5 separate regions of the Homo sapiens genome follow, and all the other regions are linked to region 3. The links come from fine-mapping of genetic effects on gene expression. A gene starts in region 3. Each other region holds a variant in brackets. All regions are shown on one strand. Distances are from middle to middle.

Region 1 (5,106 bases), 38 kb before region 3:
CCTGTTTTTAATTCTCAGTGGCATCATGCTGTGGCTCAGTGAGGGACTCTGAATGGGGAGGAGGCCATTACTTGACATATAATTACCAGTGGCAGCAATCTACCAAAGAGGCTAATGGAGATCCAAGGGCTATTTCAGCTTTTTCAAGAAACAATTCAAAGCCTTGTCAGAATAAAATCCACATTTCCTCTTTCTCCTTAGTACATTTCCCTACCTAGAGTCAAGCACGTTAAGACACTGTTCACAGCTGTAAAGTGAATGCTAGCTCGCAGGTGCCAGCCCCGTGGTTTGCTTTGGGAGCCGATTTAATGAAAGCTGGAATTGGGACCAGTAAAGCTTTCATTTCAGGGCCATTCTCCAACATAGTTGTCTGACAACTTAACTGGGAAAGATAAATTATCCAGAGAGAGATTACTATGCACAACCTCCTTTTTCTTTCCAACTCACTCCAGAGTAATTCCAACCTCCAGTTACCTTCCAATCTGTCTGCTGAAAACCTTTTCCTTGTTTACTGCCATCTGCTACATAGGAAACCCAGACAACCTCCATCCTCACTACTCTGATTTAAGGAGCCAGACAGTAGGTGCAAACCCGGCTTCCTTGTTCCAATCGGCTGTTATGCTTCTTCACTATTTAAACGTGTGGTCAGGGAGCATTCTCTTAGTAATTCAAGGGGTCACCATCTCAAACTCTTCCTTTGCTCTCAATGTCATTGCGTAGTTATAGTCAGTAGGCAGCTCTCTCGGCTGCCTACTTTTAGATGGTGTAAACCCTATATGTAAAACCTACATGTGAGGTGTAAGTGGGTGTCAATCTGGGCAGTTGGTTAATATGTTCCCAGACTGTGACATAAACCAATAATAAATGTAACTGACCAGCAGGGTTTGGCTGGAAATGAAAATCTTACACATTCTCTGCACTCGCACTGGCTTTTACCATAGAATATTTTATTATAATTCATAATTGTGTAATCTCCAAGAAAACTATAAGAAAATAAGGGAAGGAAAAGGGCAGAAAAGGAATGATTTTTCTTTGTCCTTTCTCATGCCTGTTGAGGATGACATTTCTCCTTTTCCCCAAAAAAGAATAAAGAAAAATAGGATATCAAATAAAAGAGAATAGAGTTTTCCCACAATCTCTCATGCATCTAGACCATCATGGTCCACAACCCTGCATTTCTGCTGCCTCCTTCTTTAGGATGATGAGTAAAAATGATTTTTCAAATCCACTAATCTTATAAGCCTTTTTGTGCAAATGTCTCTCTAAGTATTTAAAAACACTGTAAAATATTGTATTAGTAATACAAACACAGAAAAGAAACTATTTATTCAGAGATTTTGATAGTCACCAAATCTAAAGCCAACCATGTGTGTGTTATTCCCACAGCATCTAGGATTATTAGAGGAAAAATATGTTTTCTTTTAAACAAAATGAAAACATGATGCTGGATCACATTTCCAAATTCTTTTTCTTAAAAGAGAGAGAAAAAAGATTGAATCTATTTTCATAATAAGTATGGATGACTCTTGGAAACAATGAACCTTTGTTTTTACTGAACTTAGCAGTATAATCAAGAAACTGTACATTTTCAGTGTGTACATGGAAATTCTAATAAACATAAAATTCATCCTCACTGTGCATTTCAAAGGCAGTCTATTCCTATCATCAAAAAAGCAAAATAAGAAAATGGTTCCCACAGAAGAGAATCCCAATTTTTCTGGTTCTTGAGAAAAGCATGTGATCTCTGTTTTGATCCTAACTTTGTAACCAGATAGGCCATTGAGGAACTTGGAGGAGGAAACAATCAGTTGTCTTTGAGGATCTCAGTTTTATCATAAAATGCAAATAAATAAAGTGGCTATTGATGTGAAAATCTATTACAATAACTTGTTTACCTTTTCCCAAATATTTACCGAGCAGCTTCCTATAAGGCACCTCAGTGCTAGAACCTGGAGATTCAAAAAGAAGAGGGCGGGCCCTCAAGAAGCTGAGCCTAGGGGGCAGATCCAAAAAAGTAAACATAATTAAGAATAGTTATAAGAGTGTTAAGGGAGGCCAGGTGCGGTGGCTCACGCCTGTAATCTCAGCACTTTGGGAGGCCAAGGCGGGTGGATCATTTGAGGTCAGGAGTTCAAGACCAGCTTGGCCACCATGGTGAAACCTCATCTGTACTAAAAATACAAAAATTAGCTGGGTGTGGTGGTGCACGACTGTAATCCCAGCTACTCAGGAGGCTGACGCAGGAGAATTACTTGAACCTGGTAGACAGAGATTGCAGCGAGCCAAGACTGTGCCACTGCACTCCAGCCTGGGCGACAGAGTCAGACTCCATCTCAAAACAAACAAACAAACAAAACAGCATTGTGGGAGATTCGGTAAAGCACACAATAGGTCTCAGCCCAGATTTCAATACCTGCAAGAATCTACTCAAAGAAGGTGTGGTCTGTTACAAACCTTAAAAAATAGGCAAGTGGTGTGGAGAGGTAGTCTGAATCTAAAAAAGAGCATTTATAAAGGTCCAGAGGCCAGAGAGAGTTGTGGCCCTGTGGAAGGCAGTTCAACATGATTGCAGCATGAGGGAAGAATGGGGAAGGACGGGGCGGGAGAAACTGGCAGAACCCTTGTATCTTGAAGGGCCTTGCATGCCATTCCAAGGTATACGGATTTTACCCTCAAAGGTCTTTGAAGGTTTGGGAGTAATATGGCCAAGTTTTACCTAAAGAAAGGTCATGTAGCTTCCAGTGTGTATAATGGATGAATTGGTGGGAGGGGGGGTAAAACAGAGGGGCAGAGCAATCCATTAGGAAATGGGAGATGGCGGTGACTTGAACTAAGGAAGTGGCAGAACAGATAGGAAAAAGTGAAAAAAATCTAGAGGATTAAGTAGGAACAACTGACAAAAACTGATTAATAACTTGATATGGATGATGGGGGAGAGGTCCATGTTTCTGTTTTGGGCAAATGCTTGCATGG[C/T]GGTGGGAATATAGGAGACAGAGCTGGTTGAGAAAAGGAATGAGAAAGTGGAGAGATCAGTCTGAGATATAAGTTAGAGGAATCTCTGGACCATTCACATGAAAATGTCAGGAGATCTCTAGGTCTTGAGCTGGAGAGACACCATCAGGGAGAGAATAGAGAGTTGGGAGTCATAGGCATACATTTGGTAACTGAAGCTACAGGAACGGACCAGACTACTTGAGGTGAGGTTTTCCAACGAAAAGAAAGCCAAATCTAGATCCCAGGGGAACACCACTTTTAAGAAACATGTATTGAGAAATGAGTAAGCCAAAGGGAAGACAGCAAGGTAAGAAGAAAATTAGGAAGGTGGAACCATGGATCTGAGCGAAGGCACTGTTATAAAAAAGGAAACTGGTCCACATGATTGAATGCAGCAGAAAGGGGACTGAAGAGAAAGTGAAGTCAAAGTGACACTGGATTTAATGAGGGGGATTACTCATTAAATGGTGATCTTGGCAAGGAAACTTTCAGTGGAGTGGTGAGTGTGGAAACTTGATTATGGAAACCAGATGAGAAATGAATGCAAGTGAGAATGCTAAACTGGCAAATGTCGACCATTCTCTCAAGAAGTTTGACTCTAAGTCCTTGAAGGCTGGCACTGTGCCTCATTCTCTGTTGTATCCTGAGGTATAATATCAACAAGTAATAAATAAATATCTGTTGAATTAATTCTAAACAAGGGAAGAAGATGAGGCAAAGGCTACTGGGAGGATGGGTCAAGGAAAAGGATGAGATTGAGAGTAAAAATGAGAAGTTTACTTTAGACAGGATGAAATCTCTCTTCCAGAAGAACAGGAGTAGAAGAGGTCACAAAATTGAAATAATTTTCATCCACTAGCTTTAGTTTTATTGATGAATTCAGAAGCAAGGTGATCTACTGAAAATGTCCATGGAAATGATGAAGTAAGTAGATCTAGAAGAGTAAATAGCAAGCTTTGCAAGGGAAACAAAAAGATCAGTGGGCAGCTGAGGGCCCACTTGAGGGTGGAGGGATTCACCCTGTGTGACAAAATTAACACAGACATGGGGCTGGGGGATGAACAGTCCTCAGAACTAGAGACTGCAGGAGGATGGATCTGGGATTGGGCTTTTTCTAGTGGGTAAAAAAAAAAAGATGCCAGAGGAAGGGAATCTCAGATATTTGCAATTGGTCCACGCTAGAAGGAACTGAAGACCAAAGGAAACTTTGGTAGCAAGTAAAGTATCAAGAGGGTCTTAAAGAAGATCAGATCAGATTGTAGGGAACATGGCAGAATGAGAGCTGAAGGTTTGTTATAGAGGGATATTCTATGTGAATGTAAGGTAAATACACATCTATCCTGTTGCTTTTAGGTCTGGCTACCATGACCAGGTGCTCTAACCAACGTTGCCAACCTCATCTCATTGCCCCCAGGCTCTCAGAACAGTGCCTTGTTCCTCAACCCACTGTGCTTCTTTTGTGATGCTGGGCTTCCCAAGGGGAGAAATGCAGTATTTTACTCACTCTGAGAGTCCAATTCCCGCCATTAGAGACATTCTTGATATCTGTAGTGAATGAATAAATGAAAGAATGTCTCCGCATGTTTGCACATCTTCTAATTTGGTGAAATGTAGACTGTTGTGCTCACTCTCCCTGTGTAGGTACCTATGGAGTATTCTAAGTTCTGAGATCCCACGCAACAGATCCCTGGCCCTCTGCCATGATGTTCTTCTGTTGAAAGTTAGGGAAGATGCTCTAGAAGGAACTGTGGGGCTGATGTGAAGGAGAGGTGATGCTTTAGTGCCAGATGACAAGCCAGGGAGTTCACAGAACACCTTGTGGTGTAGAGAATTTGGTAAATTGAGTAAAAAGCTATCTACGTGAAACTATAAGGAGTCCCTAAGTCCCAGCTGTAGATGCCATAGATGTGGCAAACTATTAAATATTAGATATTCTAATTCACTGTAATTTATTGACAGTCACTATTAGCTTTAGTGAATATGCTGAAGAAGTTAAAATGTCAAAGGTGATGTTATAAAAATGAATTCTTACTCCAGGCATCAAACTGTCATGGGTGGCTTTATTTATAGACACATAGTGGTTTCTGAGGCCATACACAGTTAATAAAATGT
Region 2 (5,106 bases), 86 kb after region 3:
TGGTTTTTAGAGTTTCCTGTTTTTCTTTTCTGTTTTTTCCCCATCTTTGTGGTTTTATCTACTTTTGGTCTTTGATGATGGCGACGTACAGATGGGTTTTTGGTGTGGATGTCCTTTCTGTTTGTTAGTTTTCCTTCTAATAGACAGGACCCTCAGCTGCAGGTCTGTTGGAGTTTGCTAGAGGTCCACTCCAGACGCTGTTTGCCTGGGTATCAGCAGCAGTGGCTGCAGAACAGCGGTGGCTCTAGAACGGCGGTGGGTGTAGAACAGTGAATATTGGTGATCCGCAAATGCTGCTGCCTGATTGTTCCTCTGGAAGTTTTGTCTCAGAGGAGTACCTGGCCGTGTGAGGTGTCAGTCTGCCCCTACTGGGTGGTGCCTCCCAGTTAGGCTGCTCATGGGTCAGGGACCCACTTGAGGAGGCAGTCTGTCTGTTATCAGATCTCCAGCTGCGTGCTGGGAGAACCACTACTCTCTTCAAAGCTGTCAGACAGGGACATTTAAGTCTGCAGAGGTTACTGCTGTCTTTTTGTTTGTCTGTGCCCTGCCCCCAGAGGTGGAGCCTACAGAGGCAGGCAGGCCTCCTTGAGCTGTGGTGGGCTCCACCCAGTTGGAGCTTCCAGGCTGCTTTGTTTACCTAATCAAGCCTGGGCAATGGGCAATGGCAGGCGCCCCTCCCCTAGCCTCACTGCTGCCTTGCAGTTTGATTTCAGACTGCTGTGCTAGCAATCAGCGAGACTCCCTGGGCATAGGACCTTCCGAGCCAGGTGCAGGATATAATCTCCTGGTGTGCCTTTTTTTAAGTCCGTTGGAAAAATGCAGTATTAGGGTGGGAGTGACCTGATTTTCCAGGTGCCGTCTGTCACCCCTTTCTTTGACTAGGAAAGGGAACTCCCTGTCCCCTTGCACTTCCCGAGTGAGGCAATGCCTCCCCCTGCTTCGGCTCACACCCGGTGTGCTGCACCCACTGTCCTGCACCCACTATCTGGCACTCCCTAGTGAGATGAACCCGGCACCTCGGGTGGAAATGCAGAAATCACCTGTCTTCTGTGTCTCTCAAGCTGGGAGCTGTAGACCAGAGCTGTTCCTATTCGGCCATCTTGGCTCCACCTCTATCTCATTGTTTTCTAGTTTTGTCTTTATTACTTCCTTTCTTCTGCTTGCTTTGGGTTTAGTTAGCTTCTCTATTTCTAGTTTCCTATAGTGGGTGTTTAGGTTATTGATTTAATATCTCTCTTCTGTCCTAATGTAGGCATGTATAACTCTATATTTCCTGAACTTTAATCACTGCTGTAGCTGTATCCTACAATTTTTCATATGTTGAGTGTTTTTGTTTAGCTCAAAAATTTAAAAATTTTCCTACCGTTTTATTTGACAAACAGTTTAGATAGAAGTGTTTTAATTTTTAAGTATTTTGTGATTCCTTAAACTTCCTTCTGTTTTTGTCTAATTTAATTGCATTGTTTTTGAAGAACATACTTTTGATTATTTCAAACCTTCAAAATTTACTGAAACTTGTTTTTATGGCCTAGCATATGGTCTATTCTGGAGAATGTTCTATGTATGCTTGAAAGAATGTCTATTCTGGTGTCCTTGAGTGGAATGTTTCATAAATATCAGTGAGGTCAAGTGGTAAGTTTAAGTCTTCTATATCCTTGCTGCTTTTCTGTCTAGTTGTTCTATCAATTATTGAGAGTGGAGTATAAAAATCTCCATCCACCATTTTTGAGCACTGTCATTTCTTGCTCGGGTTATTGAAATAGCTTGGCACTCCTTATCCACCATGCCTACTTTACTTTTTCCCATAGGATTTATCTTCACCTGACTTAGTATATATTTTATTTATATTCTAGAATATAAAGGTCCCATGCTGTCAGGCAGTTTTTATCACTGATGTATGCCTGGCACCAAGAACAGTACCTGACACATACTTGTCACTCAAAAATATAATATTTTTTTAATGTATGCATTCATCACCAAACAAATGGCACCTTCTAGTTTCTCGGGTGAGTGTGAGACTCCTCATCCCACTATCTGGAATAATCTGAAGTGGGTCAATACCAGTGGAATCCTGAGAAATTCAGGGCAAAGGGTGGGAGATATAAGGGGGTAACTACTGCTACTGCTTTTGGCCACAGGGAGAAACTTTCCCTTTCTCCTTGTGTTTTTTGTTTGAATTTATCTCTCCTTGAATTTTTATTTTATTTTATTTTATTTTTGTCTCAACCTCATGGGCTCAAGCTATCCTCCCATCTCAGCCTCTTGAGTAGCTGAGGCTACAGGCATGCACCACCTTGCCCAGCTAACCTTTTTCTTTTCCTTTTTTTTTCTTTTTTTAAATTTTTTTTTCTTTTTTTCCTTTTTCTT[A/AT]TTTTTTTTTTAAGAGATGGGGTCTAACTCTGTTGCCCAGTCTGGTCTTGAGCTCCTGGACCCAAGTGATCCTCCCACCTCAGCCTCCCAAAGTGCTGGGATTAGAGGCATGTGCCACCACACCTGGCCTCCTTGCTCTTTGCATTTTCTAGTTATCAAAGTGGTAGGCACTTCAAGACCAGAACTGGATATAGGTATCAAGGAAATATGCCACTGTGCTTGATTTTGATCCAGACTATTTGGCTGCCTTCTCCAGGCAAAGGCATCAGGTGACCCTGTACATCTTAGTAGGTATTAAATCACAAGTGGGGAAGGAAAAGATGGGTTAAAACTTCAGAACAATACACAAAAATGTTTTCCCCTGCATCTGTACTTTTTCCTCCTGAATCTGAGACAAGTTTCCATAGGTGACTGGTTCAGGATTAGGTGCTCAGGACCCCGGCCAAGTATTGTTCCATTTTAGCATGATTGACACTATCTGCTTAGATACATGTCTTGGTGTAGCTTTGAAATTTAATGCATATCCTGCTTTGGAGGGCTGTAATATACAACAACTTCAGAAAAAACCAGCATGCACTATTTATTATTGAGTGCTTGGCATATGATAGCAAGATACTTTTCATGTATCTGGCATATCAGTTACTTTACATAATCTATATGCTTAATCAATTAAAAATGAAAGAAAAGATTAACTGATATTTTTCTTTTACTTATGAAAATTAGGCCTAAGTTTTACAAACTTTTCTCATATGGTCTGTATAACCAACTGGAACTCAGGGAAGAGGTCTGGGCTGGAGAAAACAGTTTGGGCACCATGAATAAATCTATGGTCATTAAAGCTGGGAGATGGGTCACGCCTTCTACAGAATGAGAAGGGGAAAGCATCTGGATAAAACTTTGAGGAACAGTGATGTTTAATGAGTAGAAGATGATGAGCCTGAAAAGGCAGAGAAGGAGCACACAGAAAGGTAGGAGGAAAATGAGGAGAATATTGTATCCAGGAAGGTATGCATCATCTTTCTGAAAACTTGCAATTGTCCTTGCTTTGGGGGAGTCTCGCTACTGGTAAAGCACTTATCATTTAATAATAAATTCTCATTACGTGAATGATCCTGCAATTGTTCTTGACTCAAATAGTTCTCATGCAGAGATACTTATAACACTTGGTAACATGAAGACTTTTGTGTTAATAAGACTCTGTGCTGGGTGCAGTGGCTCACACCTGTAATTCCAGCACTTTGGGAGGCTGAGGTGGGGGAACACCTTAAGGCCAGAAGTTCAAGACCAGCATGGGCAACACAGCTAGACCCTGTCTCTATAAAATTAGCCAGGCATGGTGGTGTCTGCTTGTAGTCCCAGCTACCTGGGAGGCTGAGATGGGAGGATCGTTTGAGCACAGGAGTTTGAAGCTGCAGTGAGCTATGATCACACCACTGCACTACAGCCTAGGTGACGGAGCAAGACACTGTCTAAGAGAAAGAAAGAAAGAAAAGAAAAGAAAGAAAGAAAGAAAGAAAGAAAGAGAGAGAAAGGAAGGAAGGAAGGAAAAGAAAGATGCTGTATTTTCATCAAAATAATTTCACTCCAGAGCTGGGCATGGTGGCTCGCACCTATAATCCCAGCTACTCAGGAGGCTGAGGTAAGAGGATTGCTTGAGGCCAGGAGTTCAAGACCAGCCTGGGAAACATAGGACGACCTCATCTCTAAAAAAGTTTTTTAAAAATTAGCCAGACATGATGGTGTCTACCTGTAGTCCCAGCTACTCAGGAGGCTGAGGCAAGAGGATGGCTTGAGTCCAGGAGTTCAAGACTACAGTGAGCTATGATCATGCCACTGCCCTCCAGCCTGGGTGGCAGACTCAATCTCTTTAAAAAATTACTTTACCTCAATCCTTGTGCACCCTGCAAGTATGATATACTCTCTCAATGACTCCAGAATCCATCCGTGACCTTTTGGCATTCTAGCGGTAATTTGAATAACGTCAGTGAAACATGGCAATAGCACTGTACAAATAAATTGAATTTATTATTACGGCTCTCCCATGATGAAATTATTTATTTTTGTGTTTAATTTTTTCATTTTAAGAAAGAAAAGTCTTTCTGTTACCCAGGCTGGAGTGTAGTGGAATAATCATAGCTCACTGAAGCCCTCAACTCCTGGGCTCAAGTGATCCTCCCACCTCAACCTACTGAGTAGCTGCGACTACAGGTGCACGCTACCATGCCTGGCTCATTTAAACAATGTTTCTGTAGAGATGAGGTCTCACTTCGCCGCCCAGGCTGCGAACTCCTGGCCTCAAGCCATCCTCTAGCACTGGCTTCCCAAAGTGCTGGGATTACAAGCATGAGCCACCATGCCCAGCCAGTCTTCAATATTTGTGGCAGTAAATAACCAATGAATTTTTATTTTAATGCTTTAGTCTCAATAACAAATTTATTTGTAAGAGTGCTATTTTATATGATTTATACATTCACTCATTCATCCATCAAACATATATTAAGTACCTACTGTATGCCAGACATATAATGTTAAGATGCATGAGGCATGGTTCTCAAGTTTAGGTGTGCACTGAAATCATATGGCAAACTTGCTAAAAATACTTATGACCCCATCCCACTTTTTGTATTCAGTAGATCCAGGGTGGGTTTCAGAAATCTATTTATAGCAAGCTTTCCATGTGATTCTGATGCACAACAAGATCTTGGAACTATTGCTCTACATAAAAACATTTAGTGAAAA
Region 3 (5,106 bases):
AGCATCAAAATACTCTTAATGCTTTTAAAAATGCCATCATATGAACTGATTTGGATCTTTAGGAGTCAGAGAGATTTATTCACTTCCAATCACTTGAATTCGTGTCAGTGTTTCATGCTTCAATGACCCAATTAATTTCAGTGCCATTTTCTTCTTTCGGGCTTAGCAGCTGCTTTGTGGTGGCAAAGGTTCATTCAAATGTAATGTATTTGAGGGCAACATATGAATCTTCATGTGTGGCTTTACATTTCATTCAATAATAGATGCCCTTCTTTTCCCTGTGTATGATGTGTTATTTCTTTTGATGCATTCAAGCTTTTCTCTTTATTTTTTTGACTTTCAATAGTTTTATTACAATGTAGACTTCTTTGTGTTTATTTTAGTTGCTATGTATTTAGCATTTTGTACTAGTAAATGTGTTTTTCATCAAATTTGGGGAAATTCTGGCCACCACTCTTTCTTCAAAAATTTTTTCTGTCCCTTTTTTTTTCTACTTCTGTTGTTTACATGCATGTTGGATTGTCTGACATGTAGCAAATCTCTGTTGGTCTACTCACTTTTTAAAGATAATTTTTCTCTTTGTTGTTTACTTTTAATAATTTCTATTGCTCTATCTTCAAGTTCCCTACTTTTTCTTTTGTAATTTTTTTTGGCTGTTAAATTCACCCAGTGAATTTTTTATTTCTAAAATTATAATTTTCAATTTTCAGAATTTCCATTTGGTTTTAAAAATCTTTTTTTTTCTTTTTCTTTGCTGAGATTTTCTATTTGTCTCCTGAGATTTTCATTCATTGAAAACATGTTTTACTTCATTGAGGATAGTTATAATAGTCACTTTAAAATCCTTATCTGTCAGTTTCAATATCTGATTCATCTCAGGGTTGATCTCTAGAGTATGCGATCCATTTCCTTGAATTTCATATGTCAGATAGTTTTGGATAGTACTCTGGACTTTGTGAGTGTTAAGTGGAGAGTCTGGATTCTATTATTCTTCTCTGATGAGTGTTATTTCCTTTGTATTAGTAGGTAATTTTCCCGGCTAGATTTTAACTGAAAACTCTCTCCCTTTTGGAGACAGCTCTGGTCTCAGTTCAGATCTTTTGTTTTTAACTGAGCTGCTGTGATTCTGTTTTGGGTGGTTCAGGATCTCTCAGAGATGTGGGTTGACAGTTTGGGGATCCACTCTCTGACTCCTTCCTTGGGATTTCTTAATCTCTTCAGAATTCAAAATTTTCTGTCTTCACTTTTCTGCTTCCCCAGACAAGAATAACTGATAAGTTTTATACATGCATCCCTGGTACTGCTGAGCCTGACTTCTGGACTGCACTTTGCCCCAAGCTAAATGCCAAAGAGAGGAGAATTTTCTTGTGGAGTTCTTGATCTTCAAGCAAGCTTGCCCTTCCTACCAGTCTGCTGTTCACATTCCAGTATATTCAGCTTTTTGTATTGTGTCCAAGTGTAGTTCCTGATCTTCAAGCAAGCTTGCCCTTCCTACCAGTCCACTATTCACATTCCAGTATATTCAGCTTTTTGCATTGTGTCCAAATTGTTTTCTGCTGGGGGATGGTCCACTAGGGTCTTAGTCTATCATGGTTGAAAACAGAAGTTATGTCCTGCCTGGGACTTTGGATTTTGAGTCACCCTTGTCCTGGTCAATGCGATAGCCTCCTAACCAGTCTCTGTTTGTGTCCTTGCTCCCTCCAGTCTATCCTCAACATATCAGTCAGAGTGATCCTATGAAAACGTCCAGGAGCCTCCAATAGCTTCCCATTTCACTCACAGTAAATTAAAAAATACTTAAAATGTGCTACTCTGCCTGTTTGAAACTCCTCATCCTTGGCTTCCAGATCACATGCTTATGCTAGTTTGTATCCTACCTTTCTGAACACTCGTTCAGCAACTCGTGTTTCCTCTAATCCTGAAACGTGGGTCCACCCTGAAAGTATGGTTCTACTTTAAAGTTCTATGTCAGGGCACTGAGTAAGGCCTTTCCCGTCCCCAGCAATCAGAAACCAGGACCCCACTGCTGAAGGCAAAGAGGACGTATGTATCCCCCAACTTTCTCAGAGAGTTATCGGCAGCACTGACTTAAAGAGGATTAAGAGCTTCAGGGCGCAGGCTACTCTTTAATATTTTTCACGTTAGAATTTGCTCAGATTTGAATAAACGCAGAGCGAAACTAGAGAGCGTTCGCGCAGGTTCTAGCTACCTTGGTCAGAAGGAGGGGCTGATGCAACTTTCCTCCCAGTTTCTGAGCCCTCTCGCACTGCAGCTGCGAGCCTCGGGGAAGCGGAACCCACAGGCGCGCGCGCCGCTGCTTCTGGCCGGGCGCGGGTCGTGGTGCACCACGGGAGCGCCGCACCGGCCGGCATGGAGGAGCGCGGCGATTCCGAGCCGACCCCCGGCTGCAGCGGCCTGGGTCCGGGCGGTGTTCGCGGCTTTGGCGACGGCGGTGGAGCTCCTTCGTGGGCCCCTGAGGACGCCTGGATGGGCACTCACCCTAAGGTCAGGAGGCGCGAGAGGAGCAGGGCGCCGTCCAGGCCCCTAACCCAGGCAGAACACTCCCAGGCAGCTCTCTTTCTTTCTTCCTCAGTGGGAGACTGAGGACGCGCGCCACCCTCACCGAGGGGGACCGGTGTGCACAACTGCCAGCCTCAGGCAGCATCGGTTTTGTTTGTTTAAACAAGTTGCACTATCTCAATCCCCCAGCCAAAGCCATTTTGGAACTGAGAGCCAGACAGTAACTCCGCCCCTCTCAAGCCGGAGATCCCTAATAAGCGCTCCACTAGTTTTGCTGTCTAGGTAAATCCCCTTTGGGGGATAAATTTATTTAATCCTCACGGTAACCATGCAAGACAATTTGTGGGCGATGGATAAGATCTAGGGGTCCATAGTGATAAAGATTTAAGCACAGTCACGTTTACACTTAGCCTTGGGCCCAGAATGCATCTTTATTTTGAAAAGGTGCAGATTCCTAATATTTCAGATTTCTTCGAAAGTTTGAATAGGTTCTTGCTCAAAGCAGAGCTACTCACATTTTGCGTGTATTTTTCTAGATTAGCAGCAGGCGAGATCAAGATAGTCCTCTGCTTACTTCTGCTTGAGACATTACTGCCTTGTACAAGTACGGTTCCAAGCAGTGAATAGACAGTGAATGGAGATGTGGGTTTTGTAAGAATCTCAAAAACTAGTCTCTACGGTACTTTAACAGAATTGCACTCTTCTGCTAGAGAGCAATAATTCATAATCATCTAAAAACAGCCAAGAAAAAATTTGAAGGTATAAGTTTGAAGAGTTAACCTTTTTCAGCTTCTCTTGCTTAATTTTATCTTCCTACTCTGTCCCCTTCATCCTCCCAAAAGGTGAGAAAAAGAAACAATAGCATGGAAATATTATTTAGTGCCCTTTTAGGGAAACAATAGCATGGAGAGGCAGCATATTGGTTAGGCGCATGAACTCAAAATCAGACTCAGTTTAAATCCTGATTCTGTCACTTATCAACCTTGTGATTTGGGACAAGTTGCTTGATCTTATTATGCCTTAGTTTCCTCACCTGAAAAATGGGGATATTAATAGTCCATACTTACTTATACGGTTGTTACAGGATTAAATTAATGAATATTTGTAAGCCATTCAACATACAGAAAGCACTATATAAGTACTTAATAAGCGAAACACCAGTAACAACTTTTTAAGACTTTATCTAGATTTGGTGGTGTTATTCAGTTTATATACTTGTAGATTGTTTTCTTTTTCAAGTTAATGGCTGTATACACCTTGACCATCAAATCTCCCCTTTTGATTTCTCTTCTTGAAGGATCAAATTAATTTTTAAAAGAAAAAGAACAAGTAATAAAATAATAGGGGGTATTTGTTTTTCCAATTTCACCTTTCTGTTAATTTAAAAATTATGTAGTTTCATCCAGTAAAATGGTACCAGATTTATTATCCCCAAACACACTTTTATTTTATTATTCTCCTGCTTAGAAATCCTCAGTGTTTCCATACTGATAAAATCACATGTTTAGCTTGACCACCAAAGCCTTGTAACCTGGCTCAAAATTATGTTTTGGGTGTTATTTTCAAAACATGTTTGAAGTCGACAACTAATTAACCCCTGTCCTCCTGAACCTGTACAGTTACAGTGAAGCTGATGGGAGAATGTGACTTTAGACCTGTCCCCATGCAGGTCTGCTAATAATTCAACTCAGCATTAGCCCTGCATATCCACCTAGTCGCTGGCATAGCTGGGCAGCCTCAGAATTCTCCTGCAGGTGTAGGCCCCTGAAAAGTATTCCCCTTATGCTGACCAGTAGTCTGAAAGAAGCAGCTTTCTCTAGTTCCTTGTCAATTCCTTTTAAAAAATCTACTCTTAAAGTGAGAAAGAGTGGGTAGAGAGGCTAGGACTGATACTCTAGCAGATTCTCTCCATATACAAATAAGAGGCTAGGGAAATACACAGTACCCACTAACATGTCCCATCACAAGTTTTATTAAAAAGGTTTCTCTATTGCTGGCAGATAGGTTTCTTTACAGGCCCTTGAATGTATGTGGCTTAATCCCACCTTTGTGTAATTACCTGCAGTATTACTCTACTTCTCCACTTACTTAAATCATAATGTTCTTCAGTGCTCAACTTGTATCCCATCCCACCTCTGCTATAAATCTTTCACCAGTCCCTCTGAGTAGAGCTCTTCTGACCTGCTGTGTCATGTTTTTTATTCCATTTACATGGTTTTTAATCACTTACAGTCATATATTGTTATTTGCCTAACAATTTTAAGTGTGCATGTATTTAACAATTGCAAGTTCTTTAGAGACAGAGATAAGATCTTATATTGCCTTTTAACTTCCACTATACCTAGAAGAATTTTATAGATTATATATGCTTGATGACCACTTGATGATTGGAAGAAAATATTAAATAATTTTTTCTTCTCAATTTGACAATTATATTTTAATTTTCAGTATCTAGAAATGATGGAATTAGATATAGGAGATGCCACCCAAGTTTATGTAGCGTTCTTGGTTTACCTGGACCTCATGGAAAGTAAGTTGTTTGTTTATATTGTTTTGTTATTGGGACTGTGGTAGAGATTTGGGGGG
Region 4 (5,106 bases), 110 kb after region 3:
TGAAGTTGGTTAGGGATCAAGGCATGCAGCTATTGGAGGTAGGAAGACTGAGAGGAAGTATTCTAGTCAGAGGGAACAGCCAGTGCAAAGACTCTGAGGTAGAGAGGTGACTGGCATTTTCCAGAAGGCTGGAGAATAATGGGCAAAGTAACGCATCAGTCATCAATTTCGCAATAATGCTGAGTAACAAGCAAACTCAAAATTTCAGTGGTATACAGTAATAAGCATTTAGGTTTTCCCCTCAGTCTCAAGATCAGCTAGATGGTTTTGCTGATCTGAGCTGATCTTGGTGGGGCTTACTCATGCTTTCACAGTCAGCTGCAAGCCAGCACAGCTTTGCTGATCTTATCTGAGCTCTCTTACATATCTGAGAGTTTTGACAAGATGACTGGGTTGATTTAGGTCTGCTTCCATATCTCTGTTTCTCATATCCTCCAGTAGCAAAAGAGAGTCAGAGAGAGAAAGGGAGGGAGAGAGGCTAGAGAGAGAGAGAGAGAGAGAGAGAGAACACACATAAGCCCTCTTAAGGCCTAAGTTCAGAATGGAGACTGTCACTTCTGCCACATTCTATTGGCCAAAGCAATTGATAAGACAAGTTTAGTTTCAAGGGATGGAGAAATAAACTCCACTTCATAGGAAGAGCTTCAGAGTCACATTGCAAAAGGTGTGAATATAGTGAAGGGTGGAGAATTAGGACCAGATTTGCCATCAGTCTGCCACATTGAGTTAGTAGGAGATACAGTCAGAGAGATAATGGGGATCTAGAAAATGTGGGGCCTTGTAGGCCAGGGTAAGACCTTTGGCTTTTACTCTAAGATGAGAAGCCATTGGAGAGTTTCCAGGAGAGGAGCAACACAATCCTACTCTATTTTAATGAAATCACCCTGGCTGTCAGATTACGAATAGACTGAAGTGGGGCAGGAGACCAGTGAAAAAGACATTCCAGTGATCCAGGCAAGAAATGAGGGTGGCTGGGCCAGGAAACATAGTTAATAGAAGTGCTGAAAACTAGTCAGATTCTAGACATATTTTGAAGGTGGAGTTGTCAGGATTTGCTTACAATGCAAATGTAGGATGTTAGAGTAAAAGAGGAGAAATTTTGGAAAGAGCAACTAGAAAAGCTGTGTTGCAATGTACTGAGATGATTAAAGCTATGGGAGGAGGAGGCTGCAGGGGGAAATATTCTTGAAAAATCCCCAACTACTTGCCAGTTTTTTACTATCTTTGAATGCCATCAACTTGACAGGAAGATTTGACTGAAGTCAGCCAGGGACTCTCCCACAGTCCTTTCTACCAGCTTAGACTTGGGTTCTCACAGATCCAGAGATAACCTCCACTGTAACATACTGCGCAGCCTGCTTCATGTGTACAGCCAGCATCCTTGTCATTAGCTGTGACATCAGCTCCGACTGGTTGCAGCACCCACTCTTGTTTCATCATCCATTCTGATTGGTCAGAACCTTATTTAATTATTGTTCTCCATAGCAGAGCCAAAAGAAACACAATGTGAATGGAAGTGCCCCTCTTTCTAAAAGGCAAAGACCACGTCTTATCCAACTTTGCACTTCTAGATAAAAGAAAGTGAATAAGTCTACTTAGATTCTCTCCATTCATAGCAAAAGCATCTCAAGTTGCATACTCTACTAAGGACTGATGTAACATTTTTTTACTCTGAAGAAAAGGTGCATTGAAAGATAAAAATGATTCCAGGCATGATTATTATAATTCACCAAATATTCTGTGCAGAATTTTTAAAAAATCCCTGTATTTGAATAGGTAAGGTAAAAGTTAACTATTGAAAAGGAGGAATATTTGTGTTCCTTTTGACTCCTTAAATTCTCATCTTGGCTCATGGAGGAGGGGATTGACACCAAAATTTCAGTCCTATCTTAACATGAGAGGAAGTGCAGGGAGGGAGGCTCTGTTACAGTAGGTAGCTAGTCAGACATAAGCATGGCAGGAAAGGACTCCCCTTGCCCCACCAGGAAAGTCAGGCGACCATCAGGTGATGGTTAGGTGGTTGTTACAATATTTCTCTAAACATAACATTAATAATTGGTTGTAGCCAGCCCAGGGAAAGGCAGTCTCCCAATAGATAGAAAACACCTGAAACCGGTGATCAGCAGCTTCCTGATAAGATATCAGGAGTTGGGCGGGTAGGCTCTAGCATGTGCACTAAGGCAAAATGGCGCAACTTAACTGGTATATGACCTTCTAAGGACATGCAACTGGTAAGGGAAGAACGCCTCAAGTGAGCATGTGTACAACTCCAGTACAAACACTGCGCATGCTCCCCTCCCAGATGCTAGCAGGCTGTTGCACATACGGACAGCCCCTCCCAAGGGAAGAATCCGGGAGAAGGAATGCAAGACCCTGGGAGCATGCCAACATATAAAACCCTAAGTCAAAAGGTCCAACTGTGCACTTGATCTCTCAGTTCGCCCCCTTGGGCCTCTTCCAAGTGTACTTTACTTCCTTTCGTTCATGCTCTAAAGCTTCTTCTTTTTTTTTTTTTTTTTTTGAGACGGAATCTCACTCTGTTGCCCAGGCTGGAGTGCAGTGGCGTGATCTCGGCTCACTGCAAGCTCCGCCTCCGGGTTCACGCCATTCTCCTGCCTCAGCCTCCCGAGTAACTGGGACTACAGGCGCCCGCCATCATGCCCGGTTAATTTTTTGTATTTTTAGTAGAGACAGGGTTTCACAGTGTTAGCTAGGATGGTCTCCATCTCCTGACCTCATGATCCGCCCACCTCGGCCTTCCAAAGTGCTGGGATTACAGGC[G/A]TGAGCCACCGTGCCCGGCCTAAAGCTTTTTAATAAACCTTCACTCCTGCTCTAAAACTTGCTTCAGTGTTTCCCTCTGCCTTATACCCCTCTGTGGAGTTCTTTCTTCTGGGGAGTCAAGAAGTGAGGCTGCTACAGACCCATATGGATTTGTCTGCCTCCCTCAGACAAAAATGGCAACTCTGGGCTGGGCATGGTGGCTCATGCCTATAATCCTAGCACTTTGGGAGGCCGAGGCGAGTGGATCACTTGAGCTCAGGAGTTTGAGACCAGCCTGGGCAACATAGTGAAAACCTTATCTCTACCAAAAAATACAAAAATTACTTGGGCATGGTGGCATGTGCCTGGAGTCCCAGCTACTAGCTGAGAGGTGAGAGAATTGCTTGAGACCAGGAGGGCAAGGCTGCAGTGAGCTGAGATCTCACCACTGCACTCTAGCCTGGGGGACAGAGTGAGACCTTGCCTCAAAAAACAAGCAAACAAGCAAACAAATGGCAAGTCTGATTGGCAAATGTGTAATATTTACTAGGACATGCTTTATTAATGGGTAGGAATTGACTCTGCAGAGTGAAACCAGCCCAACGCATTCCCTTCACTGGGAGCATGCTGCCAAGGTGTGGGCCTTCACTCTGTCCCATTGCGGTTCATTTATGAAGCAGCCTTAGTCCTTGCAACTGGCTATAGCTGGTGAATTTGGGTGGGCTCTGCGTACCTAACTCTTCTCTCAGATACATGAGGTGAGCAGTTCCCAAAGTCTAGTTTGGGTGAAGAGTAGGAGGCCTCATTTGACCTCAGCCATGCTCTCTTGCATGCAGAATCACTTGGCCAGTGCCCCATCTAGCTCCCTTGTGTGAGCTCCCCATCAGTCAGAGATGACAGGGATGAGTCATCTCTGAAGAACTTGAAGCCCTAACATCAGCATCAAGCCCAACTGAGATATTTAAAGAACTAGGATTTTCTCTCATGTTAATCCTCAGCATAATCTCCCTTCTCCTTTTTTTTTTCTGCTTCTAGAATAGTCCTTCTTTATCCCTTTATTTCCTTTTCTGAGGCATATTTAATAGAATGTGAAATTGCATATTTATTAATGATGGCTTTTTTGGTTTCAAGTAACAGAAACACACTTGAGCTCTCCAAAAGCAAAGAGATATAATTTAGTTTAAGAAATAGGCCTGTCTCAAAACTCAAGGGCAAATAAATAGCTGAACTTCAGAAATAAATCAGAGCCTCCAGCGTAGTCAGGACCCACCCTCCCATCTCTAGGGTAGGTGACCACACATGCCAGTATGTGCCGGCCTATCCTTGTTGACATCTGTCACCCTGCCCCTTTCACTTTTGTGTCAGTCTTTGTCCATGAGGGGGCAGAAACCACAGTGACTTAAACAGAGAAAGTTTAATATAAATTTTTTAAAATTATGTTAAAAGAGCAATTATAATATATAAGATAACTCTATGTGGTACCCTAAGGCTGAGTACCCAAGAGAGTACCCAAGGAGGGATGAACATAAAACATAAAACAGGATGAACATAAAACAGGATGAGCCCTTCCCCAAGGCTCAGATTGCAACCACTGGATGGCAGAGAAGTTTGCTGATTTGCCCAGGCCAGAGCTGGTCTGCAGCCACTGGGCAAGCAGGAAGCAACCCTCTGGGGCACAGGTGGCACATTACAAAAACTGCAGCCAATGGCTTGGCACGTGAGCATGCAGAGGGAGTAGGGACACCATTGCAGACAAGGAGGTCTGGAGCCTGCAGTGTCTGTGGTAAGAAGGCCATGGGAAAGTGGGCATTAGGCCAGGACAGAGCTGCAAGGACATCAAGGAATCATGAGTTCTGGGCCTGTGGCTGGAATTAGAACACCACTGATGTTCCCACACCCACACTGCTGCCTGATGGTGCAGCCACCACTAACACCAGGAAGGCTCCTTTCTCCTGTAATGTCCCATCAGGGCCCTCTACTGAGAAAGCTTCACATGGTGAATGATCAAATCATTTTTTCTCTGTAAAGAAGAAATGCCCAATGGAATTCCGTCCATTATTGCAGAGCAGGTATTGAAGGGTGAATTTGAATCTGAAAGTCAGTAAATTATTAGCACAACTCTCAACAGTACCCTGGTAAGAATGATTAATTCCCAGAAGAGTGAAATCCATAGGGAAAGGAAATAGAATAATAGTTGCCAGGAGCTGTGGGGCTGTGGGAATGGAGTTACCCGTTAATGCTTATAGAGTTTCAGTTTGGGAAAAGGAAGACATTTTGGAGATAGACTGTAGTGATGGTTGCACAAAAACGTGAACATAATGCCACTGAATTGCATGCTCAAAAAGG
Region 5 (5,106 bases), 21 kb after region 3:
ACAAGGCCTCAGAAATGGGAACTTCCATTTCATTTTTGACAGTGATTTCTCTCAACTCTGAAAACAAAACCCCTTTTACAACTCTGAGTTAGTTTTCAAATGTTAGGGTTTCCTGCATGGGTATTTGGGGTAAGTATGAAAATGTTTTGCTGCTTAAATCAAAGAACTCTGGAAACAGATATAAATTGAGAATGGAAAAAGAGTAGTGAATAAGATGGAAATTTCTATTCTAAATTTCACTATATGGGCTACAATTCCCATATAGTTTTCCTTAGTGAACACCACCCCCCAACACACACATACAAACACACCTTCTGATTTAAATAACATTATATCTTCAGAAATGGAAAATGTGTTAAAGTTGTGTTAACAGGCTTCCTTCTTGTCTGTGTCCCATTCTCATCACAGTCTACCAGTTAGGGATGTTTAGAGAAATTTATCTTGTGGCATTGAAGTGGCTTTATGTGCATTATATATTGGGTTTTATGTATATTGCATACTGTGAAGTAATCATGATACATGCTGACAACAAAAGATGTAGATAAGTTAAAATTTTAGTTGATCCATTGTCTGTTTCTTCTTTGCCATCTTTGTAGAAAAAAATTAATTCAAGATGGACAGCCTATAAAAATGTATCTTTTTCTATTATTATTAATTTAGATATTGGCGTGCCACTTTTGAAGAAGGAAAATACTTAGCTACATTAAAAGATTTGCATTGAAGAAGCAATTGTGATATGCTGCCTTTTATCACAGTGTGACTTCCCATCAGTGCTGAGTAATGAAGTTTCTGATTAATATCTATCGTTGCTTTATCAGAATATCTTTCTCTAAAGTAAATCATTCTTGTGAATAAGAATCTAGCTAGTTGTAATGCAGTTCAGCATAGGTGGAAATAATTTTTTAAGGACTAAGTCAATTTCTGGGATTCAGACTGTTTCAGAAAAGAAACATTTTCTGTATTTCCACTAATGGCACAGTGTACCTTAGTATGTTTGGGTTAGTATTCAGTTTTAGCAATAATCATGGAGGCAGGGGTATCTATAAATATTATATCCCAATTTGCAAGGTAGCAAAGTTGTATATATACTACATAATATGACCACTTGACAGTTTATGAAGTCTTTTCATATATGCCATTTAATTGATTCATATAATAATCTTATGTGTAAACATAAAGGTGTACTACTATCTTCATTTCAAGTATCCTTGAAAAGACTTTCTCCATTGAATTGCCTTTGTACCTTTGTCAAAAATCAACTGACCAGCCTTATAGCACGTTAAGAAGTAACTTATATGATGTTATTAACACAAAGGATGGGGGAAGGAATGAAGCTATATTGGAGTAAACAATGACACCAGACAGTTATGTGAAGAAATGAAGAATACCAGGAATATTAAATATGTGAATGTAAAAGACCCTAATATATTTTCCTTTCTCCTCTTAACTTTATAAAAAGAAAATTATTTAAAGTAATAATTACAACACTATATTACTGGGTTTAAATATATAAACATATATGACAATAATAGCATAAAGGTGGAGGAAAGGAATAAAGCTCTATTGGAGCAATTTCTATATTTTTTAGAATCAAGTTAGTATTAAGCTGAGAGAAATTGTGATAAACTAAGACGCAATAGTAATCTCTAGAGTCATCACTACGAAACTCAAGAAACTATAGTAAAAAAAAATACATTAATTAAAATGGTGTACTAGAAAATACCTATTTAATAGAAAAGAAGGTGATAAAGGAGGGTGAGAGGAAGTAAAAAGACATGTGATATATAGAAAACAAATAGCTAAATGGCAGGCATGAATCCAACCATACCAATGTTAATTTTAAATTTGAATAAACACTCAAAAGGGCAGAGATTGTCAGATTGGATATAAAAACAAGATCCAACTATATGCTATCTACAAAAGATACACTTCAGATTCAGAGACAACAATTTTGGAAAACTGTCAACTATTTCTATACCATTCTCTTTCCTTTCCTTCTGTGATTCCAATTATGTGTAATGTTGAACTTATTTGATACTATACCAGAAGACTCTGATGTTATTTTTTAAAATTATTTTTTCTCTTTTTACTTCAGTTTGGTTTCTTGTGACCTGTTTTCAAGTTTTCTAGTGCTTTCTTCTGTCACATCTCATCTAATTGAGTGACCGCAACTCCTAAGTATATTGTGACTTTATTTTCAGGATAAGGGAGATCTTGAAGGCATCTCGAAAGTTGCAAGGTGATCCAGATTTGCCGATGTCTTTTACTTTGGCCATAGTGGAGTCTGATTCTACAATAGTCTATTATAAACTTACTGATGGATTTATGCTGCCAGACCCTCAGGTCAGTTTTGAGGTAACTGACAGCAAGAAGTACAAAAAGAGGAAAATTATGACGTGATTTTAAGTGTGACTCAAGTCAGTCACAGAACTGCCACTTCCTTTGCCATAGGGAAAATTCAAGAAAAAAAGTCTTGATTTTCAGACGTCAGAAAATTGGTTATATTTTGTTCAAAGTAGCATGTTCCTAGTTATTTTTGCAAAAAAAAAATTGATTTCCTTACTCTTTGGAGAATTTCATGGTTTTCCAAAGTATTTTATGAAGTCATCATGCATTTAATTATTTAGTGAGTAGCTGAGGTGGAATGTAAAGGCTAATAATAGTTGTAAGTAAAAAAACGCTTATTTAAGAAATGTTAAATTGGTTGACATTTTGACAGGAACATTTTAATAAGATAAATGTGCTATATGTGATTTCTTTACATACTTTGTTGGTATAATTTGGATAATTACATTAAATATCTTTCTAATTTTGCTTTTGGATTACATT[G/T]TTTATCGGAGAAAAGTCCATCCTGATCTTTTTTTTTTCCAGAATATTTCTCTTAGAAGATGACATCCATGTTTCCTGATGCTTGTTTTATTCATACAAGATTGGATTTGAGACCCATCAGACTGCTTCATCTTTTATCTCAGAAATAGGGTTGACGTACATAGTGAGGGTTGACTTCCCCATTCCATAAGGTTTTCATTCTGAAGAGTAAAACTTCCCCAGGTAGAAGACTTTCTCCTTCTTAAAAAATATAGGGTGATTTCTTTAAAACTTTGTTATCTAGAGACAGTTTAATTACAGTTATATACAGGTTTATGCCTAGGATGTATTCAGATGGGTGGGACCTGTGTGCTGCTTTTGTCATCCCACACTCAAAGTTGTCTCTTTGTTTCTTGCTGCCACTGCCAGCTCATTGTTGAGACTGCCATTTCTTTCTCTTACTCAGCTCTCCCCAGTGCCTTTTGGCCACTGCAGCTACCGTAGAATGGCATTTTATATGTACCTTGTCACCCACTTCTGTTTACTTTTTCCTCTCCAGTAAAAAGTAAAAGATTTCTTTCAATTGGTCTTCCCATTGCAGTTACTGTTATTTCTCTTTTTTGGTTAACTTTAAATCAAAACTCAAAATATGTTCATCCAGAGTGTGTCTTAAGTAACTTACGTGTCTTAAGTAACAGGGACCAGAGACATGTTACCTACAAGAGTTCTGGGCTATCCTTTTCATTCTTATCACATATCATAGCTTGAATATTACAACAGTGTGGGAGAGAATCAACCGTAAAAATGTCTTCATTAATTAGACCCAGTTATTCCACTTTTGTTAATGTCTCTCAAATTGTACAAAGTATAAAAAATTATATGCACAAAGATGTTCCAAGTGACATTACTTTTAGTAGCCCAAATTATAAACCACTTTAAAGTTTGGGGTAAAGATTGGCAAACTTTTTCTATAAAGGGCCAGAAAGTAACTATTTTAGGTTTTTAAACCTACTGTCTCTGTCATAACTTGTCAACACTGCTGTATGAAGCACAAAAGCAGCCATAGACAATACATAAACAATACGGGCGTGGCTTTGTTCCAGTAAAACTTTGTTTACAAATGTGGTGCCATAGTTTGTCATCCCTGGGTCTAGGAAATAGTCAATAAACAGATATATACAAATGATACATAATGTACTTATTAAAAATTAGTAATGAATATTATTAAAAACATGAAAATATTACCTTAAGTAAAAATTGCAAGACGGAAAAGTGTATAAGTGGGTGTAATCATGGCTGAAATAACAGACCAAGCATATGATAAAAAGATAACAAAGTAAATCAAATTACTAACTGGTTATAGTGGGATAGGAGGCAGAAAATGGATGACTTTGTCTTTTCTCAATGTTTTTATTTGTATTTTATAATAAAAATGTTTTAAAATTAAAAGGTGTCTTGAAATCTGTATTAGTTATCTATCATTGCAAAATAATATTACCACAAATGTAGCAACTTAAAACAGCACACATTTATTATCTTATAGTTTTTGTGGGCAAGGGACCCGGGCACAGATTAGTTGGGTCCTCCATGAGGCTACAGTCAAGGTGTTGGGCAGGGCTCCAGTCTCATCTGAGACTTGACTGGGGAAGGGTCAGCTTTTTCACCCACATGGTTATTAGTAGCCTTCAATTTCTTGAGAGTGCTCAATGCTTATATGCCATTGGCAGGAGGCCACCCTCAGCTCTTTGCCACGTGGGCCTTCTCAATATAACTGGTTGCTTCCTCAAAGCCAGCAAAGGAGAGTCTCAGCAAGATGGACCTTATAATCCTTATATAATGTAATCACATACATCCCATCACCTTTGCCGTATTCTGTTGATTGGAAGCAGGTCATAGGTCCTGCCTACACACTAGGGTTTCATGGCTGATTAGGAAACAACAATAACAAGAATGGAAAAATGATGAAAATTAGGAACATCACAAAATAGTATAAAGCATCATTCTTCATCTGTAGTCATTCCTGACTCCTTCCTTTGATGGTATTTGAATTTCACTTTTATTCTTGGTGGGAGGTCTCCATAACTCCTTCAGGCTCCCTCTGCTTCCCCAGAGGACATGAAGATGGACCTATTCAGAACAATATGTGTTTGGGTGACTCTAGTGGAAAATTTGCAGGTCTAAGAATCCTCAAACAGTTTATGATAAATTCTTAGGGTCTCTTGATTTCTTAAGTCTCTCGTTTGATTCATTTTGAGGTCTTTCATTATAATTCTAGAAAAATAGCATTTTCAGAAAGAA

Which allele goes with the higher level. Alleles are on the strand shown, and positions count from the first base shown. SD is a standard deviation of normalised expression in the study named. Not every link is listed here.
With allele T in place of C in region 1, the expression in monocytes of the gene that starts at base 2,345 in region 3 is higher (moderate effect, 0.46 SD a copy in BLUEPRINT).

Evidence for each region. PIP is the estimated chance that this variant, and not a neighbour inherited with it, causes the effect.
Region 1: its variant is fine-mapped to the expression of TSEN15 in monocytes (BLUEPRINT, PIP 0.95).
Region 2: its variant is fine-mapped to the expression of TSEN15 in whole blood (INTERVAL, PIP above 0.99).
Region 4: its variant is fine-mapped to the expression of TSEN15 in whole blood (INTERVAL, PIP 0.95).
Region 5: its variant is fine-mapped to the expression of TSEN15 in whole blood (INTERVAL, PIP 0.95).

Annotation. Positions count from the first base shown.
Region 1 is chr1:184,010,980-184,016,085 of GRCh38, forward strand. All of the region lies in intron 1 of COLGALT2 (collagen beta(1-O)galactosyltransferase 2), which reads right to left. Among named protein-coding and RNA genes, the nearest start is that of COLGALT2, 24 kb to the right of the region's middle. The variant C/T (reference allele first, on the strand shown) is at 2,974.
Region 2 is chr1:184,135,645-184,140,750 of GRCh38, forward strand. No RefSeq gene overlaps it. Among named protein-coding and RNA genes, the nearest start is that of TSEN15, 86 kb to the left of the region's middle. The variant A/AT (reference allele first, on the strand shown) is at 2,368.
Region 3 is chr1:184,049,386-184,054,491 of GRCh38, forward strand. TSEN15 (tRNA splicing endonuclease subunit 15) reads left to right here and starts at 2,345. Exons shown (of 5, transcript NM_052965.4): 1 at 2,345-2,505; 2 at 4,969-5,050. The coding sequence starts at 2,371. RefSeq lists enhancers at 1,264-2,199, 1,952-2,061, 2,122-2,251, 2,130-2,424.
Region 4 is chr1:184,160,197-184,165,302 of GRCh38, forward strand. No RefSeq gene overlaps it. Among named protein-coding and RNA genes, the nearest start is that of TSEN15, 110 kb to the left of the region's middle. RefSeq lists enhancers at 1,384-1,463, 3,725-3,784. The variant G/A (reference allele first, on the strand shown) is at 2,782.
Region 5 is chr1:184,069,956-184,075,061 of GRCh38, forward strand. TSEN15 (tRNA splicing endonuclease subunit 15) reads left to right here. Exons shown (of 5, transcript NM_052965.4): 4 at 2,202-2,343; 5 at 2,872-4,257. The coding sequence ends at 2,892. Among named protein-coding and RNA genes, the nearest start is that of TSEN15, 21 kb to the left of the region's middle. The variant G/T (reference allele first, on the strand shown) is at 2,830.